2 linked regions of the Homo sapiens genome follow. The protein of the gene in region 1 interacts with the protein of each later gene in a biochemical or structural test. Each region holds a gene or a part of one and is shown on either strand. Other genes may lie near its edges.

Region 1 (6,924 bases):
TCATAGTTAAAAAATGCATTTGGGATTCATTTCACCTCCTTAGAGTCTCAGACTTAACTTTATTTTTTGTGCGGCTTATTCAAACAGTGGTTTTCCTTATGAAATCATTTAAGTAGGAACCATCTGGAAAGGTTACTGTGGAAACGGCAGGGGCTGGGAGGTGGGGCTAGAGAGCAAGAGATGCCATGACAACCTTTTTCGGGTTTCCCAGGAAACATGGGTTGCTATGGAAACTGCATCAGTCAGGTCCGAATTAGTAACTTCCGCTGGAAGGGGTGTCTGCCACTTTAATCTTCTTGTGATACTGCCGAAGCTTATCTCTCAGATGCATTAGGAAATTTTTTGTTTCTCTCAGCAACACTGAAAACATCTGTTTCTAGACTTTGATAGTTGTTGGGGCTGGGACATATGCACAGAACTTCACAGGAATCTGTTAGTCTAATGCTTTAGAAATGCTTAGCAAGCCCGAAAGAATTAAACTAATTAGTCAGATCAGGACATCTTGGGCATTTCCCTTTATTCAAAGTTGTAGAGACACTTAAAATTCCGGGAAAGGGGATTCAAATAGGAATTTAAGTCAAAAACCAAATAACTCATGGTGGGTTTACAAGTCATTATTCTAGTTAGACTCTTCATCCACATATCTACAGGGTAGGCAACCGAAATACATATTCAATAAATAACGTTGAAAGGTCCATCAAACCGAAGCATCATTTACTACGAATTGATGTGCTTAGGAAAGAAACAACTGCCTTTAAAATTCTGAGGTTAAACAGTTACTCTAACTGTTCTTTAGTTTCATTTCCTCCCAGGATGTACTGCTCTTTTTTAAATAGGGCGTGTACTAGAAATGAAGTTTAACGTAAGTCTGTTGTTTACAATGTTAAGAGAGAGAGGGTAAGAGGGAAAAGGAGAGCTGAGAGAATGCAGCCCACTTGCAAAACAGGCACCTGTTTCAGTATGAAGCAGCAGGGAGAGGGAGAATGAAGTGTGCTTTCCACTTCTTCAGGTCCTTTCCTTGATGAATGGTCTGGAAATGTATAAAACAAGGGCATAGGCAGACCAAGGGGGCACGTTCCACACAATACTGAGCACAGCATGTCACTTGTATCACATATTAAACATCGGTGAATATCTTTTTGATGTTGACACAAGAGTTGGGATTATTGTTCGTGGTGCAGGTGGCAGTGGAATTGCCCGTTTTGAAAGGGGTCTGGGGGAAAGCGCTATGGTTCATACCCCCCTCTTCGATCACCATATACTCCGACTTACTCAGAGTCGAGTTACTCCTTGCTTTTCGGAGCTCCTCGGCTGAAGAGGAGAGGTGCTGGCAACTTCCCACGTGCATGTACTGGGATTGCTCTTCCCCTTCTGTCTCCCGGTGGTAGAAGTAATTGAAGTTGGAAACAATCACGGGAACTGGCAATGCGATGGTCAAGACACCGGCGATGGCACAGAGAGATCCCACAATCTTGCCCCCTATGGTCACTGGGTGCATATCGCCGTAACCCACTGTTGTCATGGTTACCACTGCCCACCAGAAGGCATCCGGGATGCTGCTGAAACCTGAAGTGGGGTCGTCTGCCTCGGCAAAGTAGACCGCGCTGGAGAAAAGGATGACCCCAATAAAGAGGAAGAAGATGAGCAATCCCAGCTCCCGCATGGACGCCTTCAGCGTTTGCCCGAGGATCTGCAGCCCCTTGGAGTGGCGCGACAGCTTGAAGATGCGGAAGACCCTTACCAGGCGGATGACCCTCAGGATGGCCAGAGACATGGCCTGCTGTCCATTGCCCTGTCGTTCGGCCAGCTCGGTACCCAGAGTGATAAAATAAGGAATGATGGCCACAATGTCGATCAGGTTCATGATGTTTCGCGAGAAGGTGGCTTTGCTAGGACAAGCGAAGAACCGCACCAGCAGTTCGAAGGAGAACCAGATGATGCACAGCGTCTCCACCACGAAGAAGGGATCGGAGAAGCTGGAGGCTCCTGCGCGGGACCCCGACGTGCTGTTGCCGGCTGCTTCGAATGAGTCCTGCGACGTCGAGGCGGGGTAGTCCTTCTCGTCGCGGAACTCCGGCAGCGTCTCCAGGCAGAAGATGACAATGGAGATGAGGATGACCAGCACGGACACGATGGCGATGCCCCGGGCCGGCCCGGAGCTCTCGGGGTACTCGAAGAGCAGCCACACCTGGCGCTGGAAGTCGCGGCGGGGCAAGGGCCGCTCCTCCTCCCGCAGGAAGCCCTCGTCCTCGCGGAACTTCTCCATGGCCTCCTCGCCCAGCTGGTAGAAGCGGATCTCCTCGGAGAAAATGTCGATGGGCACGTTGACCGGCCGGCGGATGCGGCCCCCGGACTGATAGTAGTAGAGGATGGCGTCGAAGCTGGGCCGGTTGCGGTCGAAGAAGTACTCGTTGCGGAGCGGGTCGAAGTACCTCATGCGCCGCTTGGGGTCGCCCAGCAGCGTCTCGGGGAACTGGCAAAGGGTCTTCAGCTGCGTCTCGAAGCGCAGCCCGGAGATGTTGATGACCACGCGCTCCCCGCAGCAGTCCTGCTCGCCCGCGGCCGGCAGTGAGGGCGGCAGCGGCTCGTAGCGGTCGCAGCCGCCGCCGCCACAGCCGCCTTGAGGCGGGGCCCCTCCACCATCGGCCACCTCCGGCTCCAGCAGGTGGTCCCCGGGCACCACGGTCATGTCGGGCGGCAGCTCGCGGCCTGCGGCGGGCTCCGCGTAGCCGTGGTTCACCAGCGTGTGGGCACCGCCGCTGCTCGCTGGGCGCTGAGGAGGGTGGGCGCGGTGGCGGGCTGAGGGCGGCGGCGGCGAGCGCAGAAGGCTGAGGCGCTCGTCCATGCGGCGGGGAAGAGGCGGCAGCGGTGAGGCCAGGTCGCTCCTCCTCGCGCTCCCCGCCCTTTCGCCGCCTCCGCCCCCGAGCCGAGCCCACCGCCTGTTGCAGCCAAAGCCGCGATGCTCTGTCTGGGTCTGGCGCGGTCAGCCGGGCTCCCGCACGGGGACGCCTCCTCCCTCCTTCTCGCGCTCTCCGCCCCCTCCCCTGCGGGGCGCGCGCCCGCCTCCGCGTCCCCTTAGGATTCCCGCCCACCGCGCGGGCGCGCGTCCCGCTCTCGGGGGCAGCCGCCGGGCCTGCATTTCTTGCAGCCCTCAAGGCCCCTCGGTGTCAGCGAAAGAGCCCTCATGTTGTACCTCGGCGCCCCGCGGGAATGCCCACCCAGCAGAGCCGGCCCACGGGGAGTCAGGCTGCCGGCCCGGGCCCCTAGGCTCCGCCCGCTTCTGGTCAGCGCCCCTCGCCCCCGGCCCGCCTGGCCGCGTCCCAGTCGCCAGGGTTTTCGGCCCGTGGGCCGGGAGAGCTCCCGCCGCGGCCCCGCGGGCGCCGGCCCCCTGGCCTCCACACCCCTAGGTACAGCCCGGGGAGGGCAGGCGGGCCCAGTGTCCAGGGAGGGAGTGCAGGCCAGGCGGGCGCCCTGGGCCAGAGGCAAGCCTGGCGCCGGCATCCCAGGTTCCCTTGAGGGTCGAGGACCGCCAAACCCTGGGGAGGAGCGGGGGTTTAAACAATTTAGCTTCTGCTAGGATGCGAAGCCAAAGGGAGTAATGGGTGCTGATGGGCTTCGCAAACGGAGTCCGAAGGAAATGGATTGTTAAAGGCGTTCGGGCCCTGCTGCTTTAGTGAATAGTTCACACCCGTTTTCGCAGCGGAGATGTCGGCCACTGGGAAGAATCAAGGACCAAGTTTCTGATTGGGATTAGCAGTGACAGCCTGGTCTTTATCCACTACACAGGTTTCCTGTTGGCGGGGAAATAAGAGGAAAAATGGGAAAGGAAATTCACGAAGTCGAAGTTGTGTGGTTAGAAAGTCCAGCTTTATGACTCAAGCCTGTCGTGGAAGGGATGAGAGCAGGACCTGTACCTAGACTTTTTACTTAATATTTTGGCACTGCCCTTGTGGTAGGGAATTTGCAGCGCTCTAGTTGTTAAACTGGAAGGACATTCATTCTGCAACTTGTACCTCTTGCTTGATCTGGGCCCAGAGATAACTTACATGTATCTTCTTTAAACTTATTTTTCCAAATTATTGTGGTTACTTTGAACACAATTTGTTTCCAGAAATTTTAGCAATCTAATATAACTCAACCCTAGGCTTTAAAAAGTCTGTTTTTTATTGTATCATTCAAATCATTTACAGAAGAGGAACTATTGTCTAGACAGCTCCTCACCCACCCAAAGTTAGCTGACAATTCAATTTTAAGTAAGTGATTTGTGGTCAATACTTCCCACCACCACTCCCAACCATGGGGTTCTCTAGGGCACAGAGTAGGTCCTAGCCAACTTATATTTCTAGCAACTACCAAAGTGCCTTGTAAATGGTGGAGACTTGGTACATACTTGTCAGATTGAATTCCCCAAGGAGTGTCTCTTTGCGTTGCTATCTGCTCTGGAGTTTCAACATTTCTTCTTTTTGAGCCCAAGATGCTGCTGTGATTCCTAGGATGAGGAGTGAGGAAAAACTGAGCTCACCATAGAAAACACTGCTCATTTATTCCATAGGATTTCCACCTCCGGCTCTCCTGGGCACAACAGGCACCCATGTCCTTTTATTGTCCCTTCATCTTCCGTTTCACCTCCTGGTCAGTGCCAGACAATGCAGGCAGTCACTTATGTTGTGGAATGGCAAAACTGGGCAACCACGTAAAACTCTTTCTCTTACAAAACTCCAGAACACTGGAATGTGACAGCCACCTCATTATTTTGCGTATATATTTTGAGCTGGTGATTAGAGTAGCAGTATAATCAATCATTCATATATTTAAATCTTAGAATGAGACAGACTGCTTGCTGCAATGATAGCTCATGGAAAGGCAAAGACCCTATTTTTAAAGACCAGATGTTTCATGTACTTCTATGTCTGACTTAGAAAATGATTTATTCCTTCTTTTGCAGGAATTAGTACTGAAATTAATATTAATCAATGGCAAGGAAGACCAGAGCAGAGGATAGTCCTGTGACAAATGGTCACAAGCTTCTCCCAGCTGTGAAATGTCTTTCCTTCATAAGTGACTATTTCCATTCCCTTTCATGTATTTGCCTTGTCTGGAAGACTTTGATTATGTGCTTCTTAGGACACATATAAAGTCCTTACTTTGTATTTGGGGCCCAGAGAAGTTTAGCAATTTGCTTAAGCTCACATAGCTAGTTAGCAGCAGAGCTGGGCCTAAAATCTTGGACCATTTCCAAATCCAGTGTTTGCTTTACTGTATCACACTGTGCAACGCTTGTGTTGATCACTGTGAGTACTTAATATACTAGATTTCTAACAGCAGCCTATTTGCTTCTGATTGCCGACTAGTTCACTTCAATTCATATTTATCTTAACTGAAAACCACTCCTTCTGACGGCTCGTCTGTTGTCTATAGAAAATGAGTTGGTGGGCTCATTCTAGCCCTGTTGGACAGCCGAACCCATCACAACAAATCAATGCCAAAAATGGCATTTCAAGAGGAAAACATAGCATTTATTTAGTACCCCCAACAGAGTAGCTCAAAGTGATTTGAAAATGTCTCATTAATCCTCATAACACCCCTGTGGGATAATAATAATATTATTATAACGTTTAGGCGTAGAACTGTGGCAAAGCCAACAGCTTCTCTGAGCATGTGCAGGATTTCCTCATATTTCAGTCTGCAATACTAGAGCCTGACTAAAACCGTCAGGTTTGCAAACAGCAAGGGTAAATAAATCTTGGTGTTTGGCCTTTCTGTGTTGCTCTAGGCATAGTTTGTGTTTCCTACTGACCACATCAATCCCAGAAATAGTTCACCAGTTGTTTGCCAGATGGTAAGCAGCATTTAGGATTAGCTCAGAAGTGTTTGAGAGTGGGACAAGGCAGGGCTAGAGGTCCTGATCCACAATTACAGATAAATGAATGGAGAAATAGCACCTAGTAACAGTGTAAAAGCGTTCCTATTTCTCCACATCCTCTCCAGCATCTGTTGTTTTCTGACTTTTTAATGATCGCCATTCTAACTGGCATGAGATGGTATCTCATTGTGGTTTTGATTTGCATTTCTCTAATGACCAGTGATGGTGAGCTTTTTTTCATGTTTGTTGGCTGCATAAATGTCTTCTTTTGAGAAGTGTCTGTTCATATCCTTCACCCGCTTTTTGATGGGATTGTTTTTTTCTTGTAAATTTGTTTAAGTTCCTTGTAGATTCTGGATATTAACCCTTTGTCAGATGGATAGATGGCAAAAATTTTCTCCCATTCTGTAGGTTGTCTGTTCACTCTGATGATAGTTTCTTTTGCTGTGCAGAAGCTCTTTAGTTTAATTAGGCCCCATTTGTCAATTTTGGCTTTTGTTCGCATTGCTTTTACTCATGCAGTCTTTGCCCATGCCTATGTCCTAAATGGTATTGCCTAGGTTTTCTTCTAGGGTTTTTATGGTTTTAGGTTTTACGTTTAAGTCTTTAATCCATCTTGAGTTAATTTTTGTATACTGTATAAGGAAGGGGTCCAGTTTCAGTTTTCTGCATATGGCTAGCCAGTTTTCCCATTTATTAAATAGGGGAGTCTTTCCTTATTGCTTGTTTTTGTAAGGTTTGTCAAAGATCAGATGGTTGTAGATGTGTGGTGTTATTTCTGAGGCCTCTGTTCTGTTCTGTTCCATTGGTCTATATATCTGTTTTGGTACCAGTACCATGCTCTTTTGGTTACTGTAGCCTTGTAGTATAGTTTGAGGTCAGGTAGTGTGATGCCTCCAGCTTTGTTCTTTTGCTTAGTATTGTCTTGGCTATATGGGCTCTTTTTTGGTTCCATATGAAATTTAAAGTAGTTTTTTATAATTCTGTGAAGAAAGTCAGGGGTAGCTTGATGGGGATAGCATTGAATCTATAAATTACTTTGGGCAGTATGGCCATTTTCA
Region 2 (7,497 bases), on another chromosome or scaffold:
TAATGAAATAGTTTATGAATGGCCAGCACATAAATGAATAAGACAAAGTCCACACTAGTAGAAATCTCATAGCTAAATGGAGAATTAAAAATTCACGCACCTCTGTAGGAGGCATAATTGCATAAGAAACCTTAGCCAGAAGAAGGGAGTCCTTGTGAAGAACAGAGGACTGGGCATCCCCTCCCTTGGCAGATCCACTATGATTCCATGAGGGAACTGGTCTTTGAGTTGGGCTTGCTTTTTTTAGGGAAGATGTGGGATAGGTGAGGGCATGCAAGGGGAGGATGCAGGAGGAGCAAAGCACACGTTTTAGGAAAATGCCGGGAATAAATGGGGAAGGTCAAGGAATCCAAAGAATACAGATGCCTGTGACCCTGGAAAGCACTCCAAGCCCCGCTGTGGCAGCCCTGACCCCTTCCTGGAGAGCAGAAAAAGGTGTTTCAAGGATATTAGAGATGGCCTGCCCAAACCAACATCATCCAATGACCACAATTACTAGGATAAAGATTGCGTATCTTTGGACACCATAGTTTAATTTGGTTTACATGTCGCACGTCTCTGATGAGGGAGCCCTTTCTGAATCCGCATCAGCCACAGCAGCTTCTTGGCCTCCTCATGGCTTTTTGCAGCATTTTGTTCCAGGGAGACCACAGGTGCCAATTTGTTTATACCTTCTAGGGCAAAAGACTGGATGACATATGGCTCCACTCTTAAGGCAGGTAACAGGATCGCCTATACCACCAAAAACACCTAACAGGGAAAAAACACACAAAAAGAGCAAACAGCGTGTAAGAACTCAAAACTCATGTTGGAAAAACACAAACCCTGTGTCAGTATCGCCTTGAGTAAATCCGCAGCGGGCTTCTTTCTCAAGCCTGGGCTTTTCCATCATGATAATGAGACGCGAGTCAGTCATTTGGATCTAAGTTTCTGACATGGAAACTGGCACTGCTGTGGTTTGGGGGATGTTTATTTTTGTAGAACCTGATTGTGAAAGACCCTGATCTCTCCTGAGTGACTGGGGCCTCCAGGTGGGGTCTGGCAGGAGCTCAGCAACGATCTCTTGTGAATTCAGCTCCACCACAAGAAGATAATATCAAAGCCACCATACCTCCATTTTAACACACACAAGCCAGTAAACTTTTGCTTTTTCAAATCATTTAGTCTGTTAAGTATTTGATCTGAGATGGGATAAAAAAGATGCAACTTACTGAAATTGTTTAATAGGAAATTAACACCAAGTAACTTACAGTTGAAAACCACAATTAACCATAGAAATAAATTTTGTAATGGCTTGTTTCTAATATCTAAGTCCTGGTTTCAACCTCATTCTTCTTTTTGTTTCCCTCCCTCCCTCCCTCCTTCCCTCCTTCCCTCCCTCCCTCCCTCCTTCCCTCCTTCCCTCCCTCCCTCCCTCCCCCTCCCACCAGCCTGCCTCCCTGCCTCCCTGCCTCCCCGCCTTCCTTCATTATACTGTTCTAGGTTTTGGAAAATATGAGGTCTCTGGTGCCTCTCAGAACCCCATTGTTCTCACAAAACCCAGGACTCATAAATAAGATTGGTAAAATGAGGATTTCACAAGATGATATCTATTAGATTAATTGTTTTAGGATTTACTCTCAAATTTTCTTTTTCCCTTTCTCCATCCTTCCCTTCCACTCTCCCTCTTTTATCCTTTCATGGTTTTTATTTTATTTTCATAATATCAAGGAGAAAATGAAGGTTAGGCATCCAGGTTTAAAAGTTGGTTTCAATGGGCTGTCCCTGTCCTGTGAACCTGCAGTGGCCTAGTGGCAGGGACTGTTCTCAGGGCCTCTGATCAGAAAAGTCCTGGGGGCAGAGTGTCTGCTGCAGTAGTTCTCACAGTATAGGCTGGGCCTTAAGATTATCTGGAATTCTCTAGGTTGCAGTATCTACTCTTTAAATATAAAAATTTAGAAAATGACATTCTATACTACTTTCTTTAGATAAAATCAAAATTTCTGCCTTTTATTTAAAAAGTCACCTAACAGGTTTCAACCATAGTCTCAGCAGTTGTAGCATGGAAAGCAGTGAAGAGATGATATTTACAAACTACTGGGCTCCTTCATATTGGCTTAGAAGAACGAGTGAGTTGTCCATTGGGTTCTCAAACTCCTTTTCTATTGAAGGAAGCAATGCTTGGTTCAATTAAATAGGGCATTCAGTCTACTCAGTCTAAAAGTGTGGGTAGAAGAAAGGAAAGAGAAAGAAAGAAAGACATGCTCTAGGGAGAGAGGAAAAAGAAAGACAGAAAAAAAGAGAGAGAGGGAAGAAGAGAGAGAAGCAGGAGAAAAGGATGGAGGGGACACACAGAGAGAGGAAGGAGAGAGAGGGATGAGGGAGAGATAGGTGGAGGGGAATGAGAGGAGACAGAGAACTTCTACGCCATTCTTCCATTTGGCCAACCCTCCTATTTCCCTGGCCCATCTCACCTGGAAGAGGCATCAGGAATATGAAGAGGAACGAGAAGAGGAGATACAAGACCCTCATGGCTGATGGCTGGGAGCTTCACCAGGAGCTGAGTCTGGGGAGGACATCAAGCCTTCCACCTTATAAAGGTCCTGGTCCCTGGTCACCAGGTAGAGTTCAGAACTGGTATTGGGTGCAATGCTCATTACAGAGGTTAGAATTCAGCCACTTACCTGGTGAGTCAGAGAATGGTCCTCAAAGAACAATGCACACTCAGGAGATCTTATGCAAATCTGGACTCAGGAAACCCCAGAAAATCCCTTCCTCCTGCTCTTGGGACCAGAAAATTCCTCCTATCTTGCACCATTTAAAACCCAGTGTGTGAATGGAGTGAGGGGCTGGGTCTGTCTCACGTGAGAACAAACTCAAACTCAGGACCTATAACCTGCCACTCACCTGCTGCCCACTCTGTGCGACGTCCTGTTTTTCCTGAGTATCTGGGGACAGTCTCAGGCCAAATTGAGAGCTCTTTCCATCTAATTCTATCCATTGCTCGGACATTCAGCTCCTGGGGATGATACAGGGCTGGCTCAAACCCAGGGACCCTGGAGGGGCTCAGGGCCTCTGGCAGCACCGGGAGCATGGTGGGCCCCATCCTCACAGGAGATCTGAGCTGGTGAAATTTATGTGAAAGTTCCCCTGAAACTCCCCATCTTCCCCACGGGAGAGAGATGAGGCAGATGGATGCCCACTTCCTTCCTCTGAGAAGGAGAATGGGAGGATGGGATTGTGACTACATGTGTCCCCTCAGAGTTCACCCAGGCCTGGGCCAGGAGGTGGCCTACCACCCGCACTTGAGTTCCTTCCATTCACACCGTCACTCAGGGAATGTCAGCTCCACAGGACTTCAGGGCTTTGGGAGCCAGGGCTTTCTCTGCTTTCCACAGACGTCAGCGTCACTGCCCTTGGGATTTGGTGGAGAAGCACCGAGTAGGGCTGCAAGGCCTCCACGTGGTCTCCCTGTTGGTGATGGGAAACACTTATGAAGGAGCCCCATGTTTTCAGGGCTGTGTGAGGTCTCTGGTGTCTCTCAGGACCCTGTCCTTCTTCCGTAACCCAGAGTAGCAATTGGCGGCCCCAGGCAATGGACAGAGCCCCATCCCGGGCACTCAGGAGAGGGCCTTTCTTGGGAAAATGAGTGGCATTCATCCTGGTTCCTCCCTCTTTCGATCTAAGGGCAGTTTGAGAAACAAGCAGGCCCCAGTGTCCATGTCTGTGATGTCTCAGGGGTGCAGCAGTGACAGAGACATGGGGACAATGAGGCTTTCCTCATGACCTGCCTGACCTCTTCATTTAAAATGTCAGGTTCTGAAGAACCCTGATTCCTGGCAGGCCAGAGGTGGATTTAAAGGAAGCTGGTAACGATATTGTGCAGCCAAGATCCTTAATGACATTTTTATAAAAGGAAATTTCTGAGCCTAGCATGGTGGCTTACACCTGTCATCCCAGCACTTTGGGAGGCTGAGGCAGGTGGATCACATGAGGTCAGGAGTGTGAGACCAATTTGACCAACATGGCAAAACCCCATCTCCATGAAAAATACAAAAATTAGCCAGGCATGATGGCTTACGCCTATAATTCCAGGTATTTGGGAGGCTGAGGCACGGGAATCGCTTCCGACAGAGCAAGACTCAGTCTCAAAGAAAAAAAAAAAAAAAGAAGGTTCTGGTGGGGTATGCAAAGAGAGGGCTGGGTCAGATGCTGTCAGAACTGCTAAACAAATATGCATCCAGGACTGGAGCTTAGTCACCAGGGAGTCACTCTGATTGTCAGGGCTTTGTTTCCTTGTGTGCTGAGCAGGCTGGAATTGAGGGGCAGACTCATTCATTCCTGACACTAAAACTATTTCTTCCTGGTGAAGAAAGCATACAGAGAAATGGAATATGAAATAAAGCCTTTATGTGCTCTGCCTAAATTAATATTTTATTTTTTTTTTGTATACTTGCTATGTCACCTTTAGAAAGTAAGAGGCAGCTCTCACTTGCTGCTGATGACCTGCCTCACCATGCACATGTCCTGCCACCACCCCACAGAAATGCTTCCATTACCCACAGTCTTTCACCAGATGAGACCAGTGTCCAGGCTACTGGCTCCTCACCTCACTTGAAGTGATGGTAAAGATGTAAAATTTGGTGCTGATGTCTGAGCCTTAATGCTTCAAAGTGTAGACTTTTTGTCGATGCTGTAGCCATTACAATGGGGCCAAAGGGAAGAACAGTAATTATTGAACATAGCTGGGGAAGTCCCAAAGTAACAAAAGATGGTGTGACTGATGCAAAGTCAATTGACTTAAAGGATAAATATAAAAGCATTGGAGCTAAACTTGTCCAAGATGTTGCCAATAACACAAATGGAGAGACTGGGGGATGGCACTATCACTGCTGCTGTACTGGTATGCTCTATTTCCAAATAAGCCTTCCAGAAGGTTAGCAAAGGTGCTAATCCAGTGGAAATCAAGAGAGGTGTGATGTTAGCTGTTGATGCTGTAATTGCTGAACTTAAAAAGCAGTCTAAACCTGTGACCAAACCTGAAGAAATTGCACAGGTTGCTACAATTTCTGCAAATGGAGACAAAGAAATTGGTAACATCATCTCTGATGCAATGAAAAAGTTTGGAAGAAAGGGCATCATCACAGTAAAGGATGGAAAAACACTGACTGATGAATTAGAAATTATTGAAGGCATGAAAATTTGATAGAGGATATATTTCTCCATACTTTCTTAATACATCAAAAGGTGAGAAATGTGAATTCCAGGATGCCTATGTTCTGTTGCATGAAAAGAAAATTTCTAGTGTCCAGTCCATTGTACCTGCTCTTGAAATTGCCAATGCTTACTGTAAGCCTTTGGTCATAATTGCTGAAGACATTGATGGAGAAGCTCTAACTACACTCATCCTGAATAGGCTAAAGGTTGGTCTTCAGGTTGTGGCAGTCAAAGCTCCAGGGTTTGGTGACAATAGAAAGAACCAGCTTAAAGATACGGTTATTGCTACTGGTGGTACAGTGTTTGGAGAAGAGGGCTGACACTAAATCTTGAAGACGTTCAGCCTCGTGATGTAGGAGAAGTTGGAGAGGTCACTGTGATCAAAGATGATGCCATGCTCTTAAAAGGAAAAGGTAACAAGTCTCAAATTGAAAAATGTGTTCAAGAAATCATTGACCAGTCAGATGTCACAACTAGTGAATACGAAAAGGAAAAACTGAATGGAGAAACTTTCAGATGGAGTAGCTGTGCTGAAGGTTGGTGGGACAAGTGATGTTGAAGTGAATGAAGAGAAAGACAGAGTTATAGGTGCACTTAATGCTACAAGAGCTGCTGTTGAAGAAGGCATTGTTTAGGGAGGGGGTTGTGCCCTGCTTCGATGCATTCCAGCCTTGGACTCATTCACTCCAGCTAATGAAGATAAAATAATTGGCATAGAAATTATTAAAAGAACACTCAAAATTCCAGCAATGACTATTGCTAAGAATGCAGGTGTTGATGGATTTTTGATAGTTGAGAAAATTATGCAAAGTTCCTCAGAAGTTGGTTATGATACTATGTTAGGAGATGTCGTGAATATGGTGGAAAAAGACATTATTGACCCAACAAAGGTTGTGAGAACTGCTTTATTGGATGCTGCTGGCATGGCCTCTCTATTAACTACAGCAGCTGTTGTAGTCACAAAAATTCCTAAAGAAGGGAACAGCCCTGGAATGGGTGCAATGTGTGGAATGGGAGGTGGCCTGTTCTAATTCCTAGAATAGTGCTTTACCTTTATTAATGAATTGTGATAGGAAGCCCAAGGCAGTGTTCCTCACCAATAACTTCAGAGAAGTCAGTTGGAGAAAATGAAGAAAAGGCTGGCTGATGTTTAAGAAACCACTATAACCATCAGTTACTGGTTTCAACTGACAAAATATATAATGGTTTACAGCTGTCATCCATGCCTACAGATAATTTAGTTTGTATTTTTGAATAGAAAGATCTTGTACATTCCTGACACTGGGTACAAGAGCCATGTACTGATGTACTGTTTTCAACTTAAATCACTGAGGCATTTTTTAGTAAAAATGAATAGTAGTCTATTCTGTTAAAATCAGGATTTTAGTGCTTGCAACCACCAAATGAGAAGTTAAGCAGCCTTTCTGTGCAGAGTGAGAATAATTGTGTACAAAGTAGAGAAACTTCCAATTATGTGACAACCTTTGTGTACTAAAAATTTGTTTAAAGTTAAAAAAGAAAGACGCAAACATCATGACACTTCACTGTAATTATCTCAGCAGAATCTCTTACATATGAGGGGACATTCCCACATCAAACACAATACAATTTACACACATTAAGAAAACTAGTTCCTCAATGTTATTTATTATCTTGTCAATATTTCACATTTCTCCAATTGTTCCAACCATGGCTTCATGGCTGTTGATGTTTCTGGATACATGTTTAATCTAGATTTGCACATCAAATCAGGTTGTCATGTCTCTTAATTTGTTGAGTAAATATTCTTAAGGAAATGTCATGGTACTATGAGAAGAACCTTATTGGGGCTTAGAGTTTGAATTAAGGGACTGGTTGCCATCTTTTTCATGTGAGACTTCATTCCTGATCGATACATTCTTAATGACTACTATGCTTAACATTATTATTATAAAAGTAATACACTCACATTTAAAAACTCACCCATAAAAGAGAGTGAATTTTTCCTACACACCTGTTCCAATCCCAGGAACCACCGATAGCACTGTGGTTTTTCACTTGTTGTCCTCTCTAGCTCTCAGTACATTTGTGAGGCCTTGTTAGAGAAGGAGGTGAAATTACTCTGAAATAGGAAAGTCACTGTGAAATGCAGCACCTGTGTCCCTGGGGAAGAAGCCACCAAGGCTTAGGGAATATGTGCCTGGTTGCTCAAGGACAGCTGGGCTGACTGTTCCCATGAAGATTCCTACGGTTGCAGCTGCTTCTTTTCTCCTGGCACAGCCCAGTGTGACTCCTTCACAGCTGTGTTCATCCTAGTGATGA

The links. The genes of interacting proteins can lie anywhere in the genome.
Region 2: the proteins of KCNA3 (region 1) and DEFB4A form a complex in vitro, tested with the Homo sapiens proteins (one study listed by BioGRID).

Annotation. Positions count from the first base shown.
Region 1 is NC_000001.11:110,671,965-110,678,888, forward strand, and holds KCNA3 (potassium voltage-gated channel subfamily A member 3), read right to left. Parts: upstream 2,977-6,924; 5' UTR 2,846-2,976; coding exon 1,118-2,845; 3' UTR 501-1,117; downstream 1-500.
Region 2 is NC_000008.11:7,889,727-7,897,223, reverse strand, and holds DEFB4A (defensin beta 4A precursor), read right to left. Parts: upstream 2,548-7,497; 5' UTR 2,512-2,547; coding exon 2,454-2,511; intron 751-2,453; coding exon 614-750; 3' UTR 508-613; downstream 1-507. UniProt on the Homo sapiens protein: Exhibits antimicrobial activity against Gram-negative bacteria and Gram-positive bacteria, with highest activity against Gram-negative bacteria.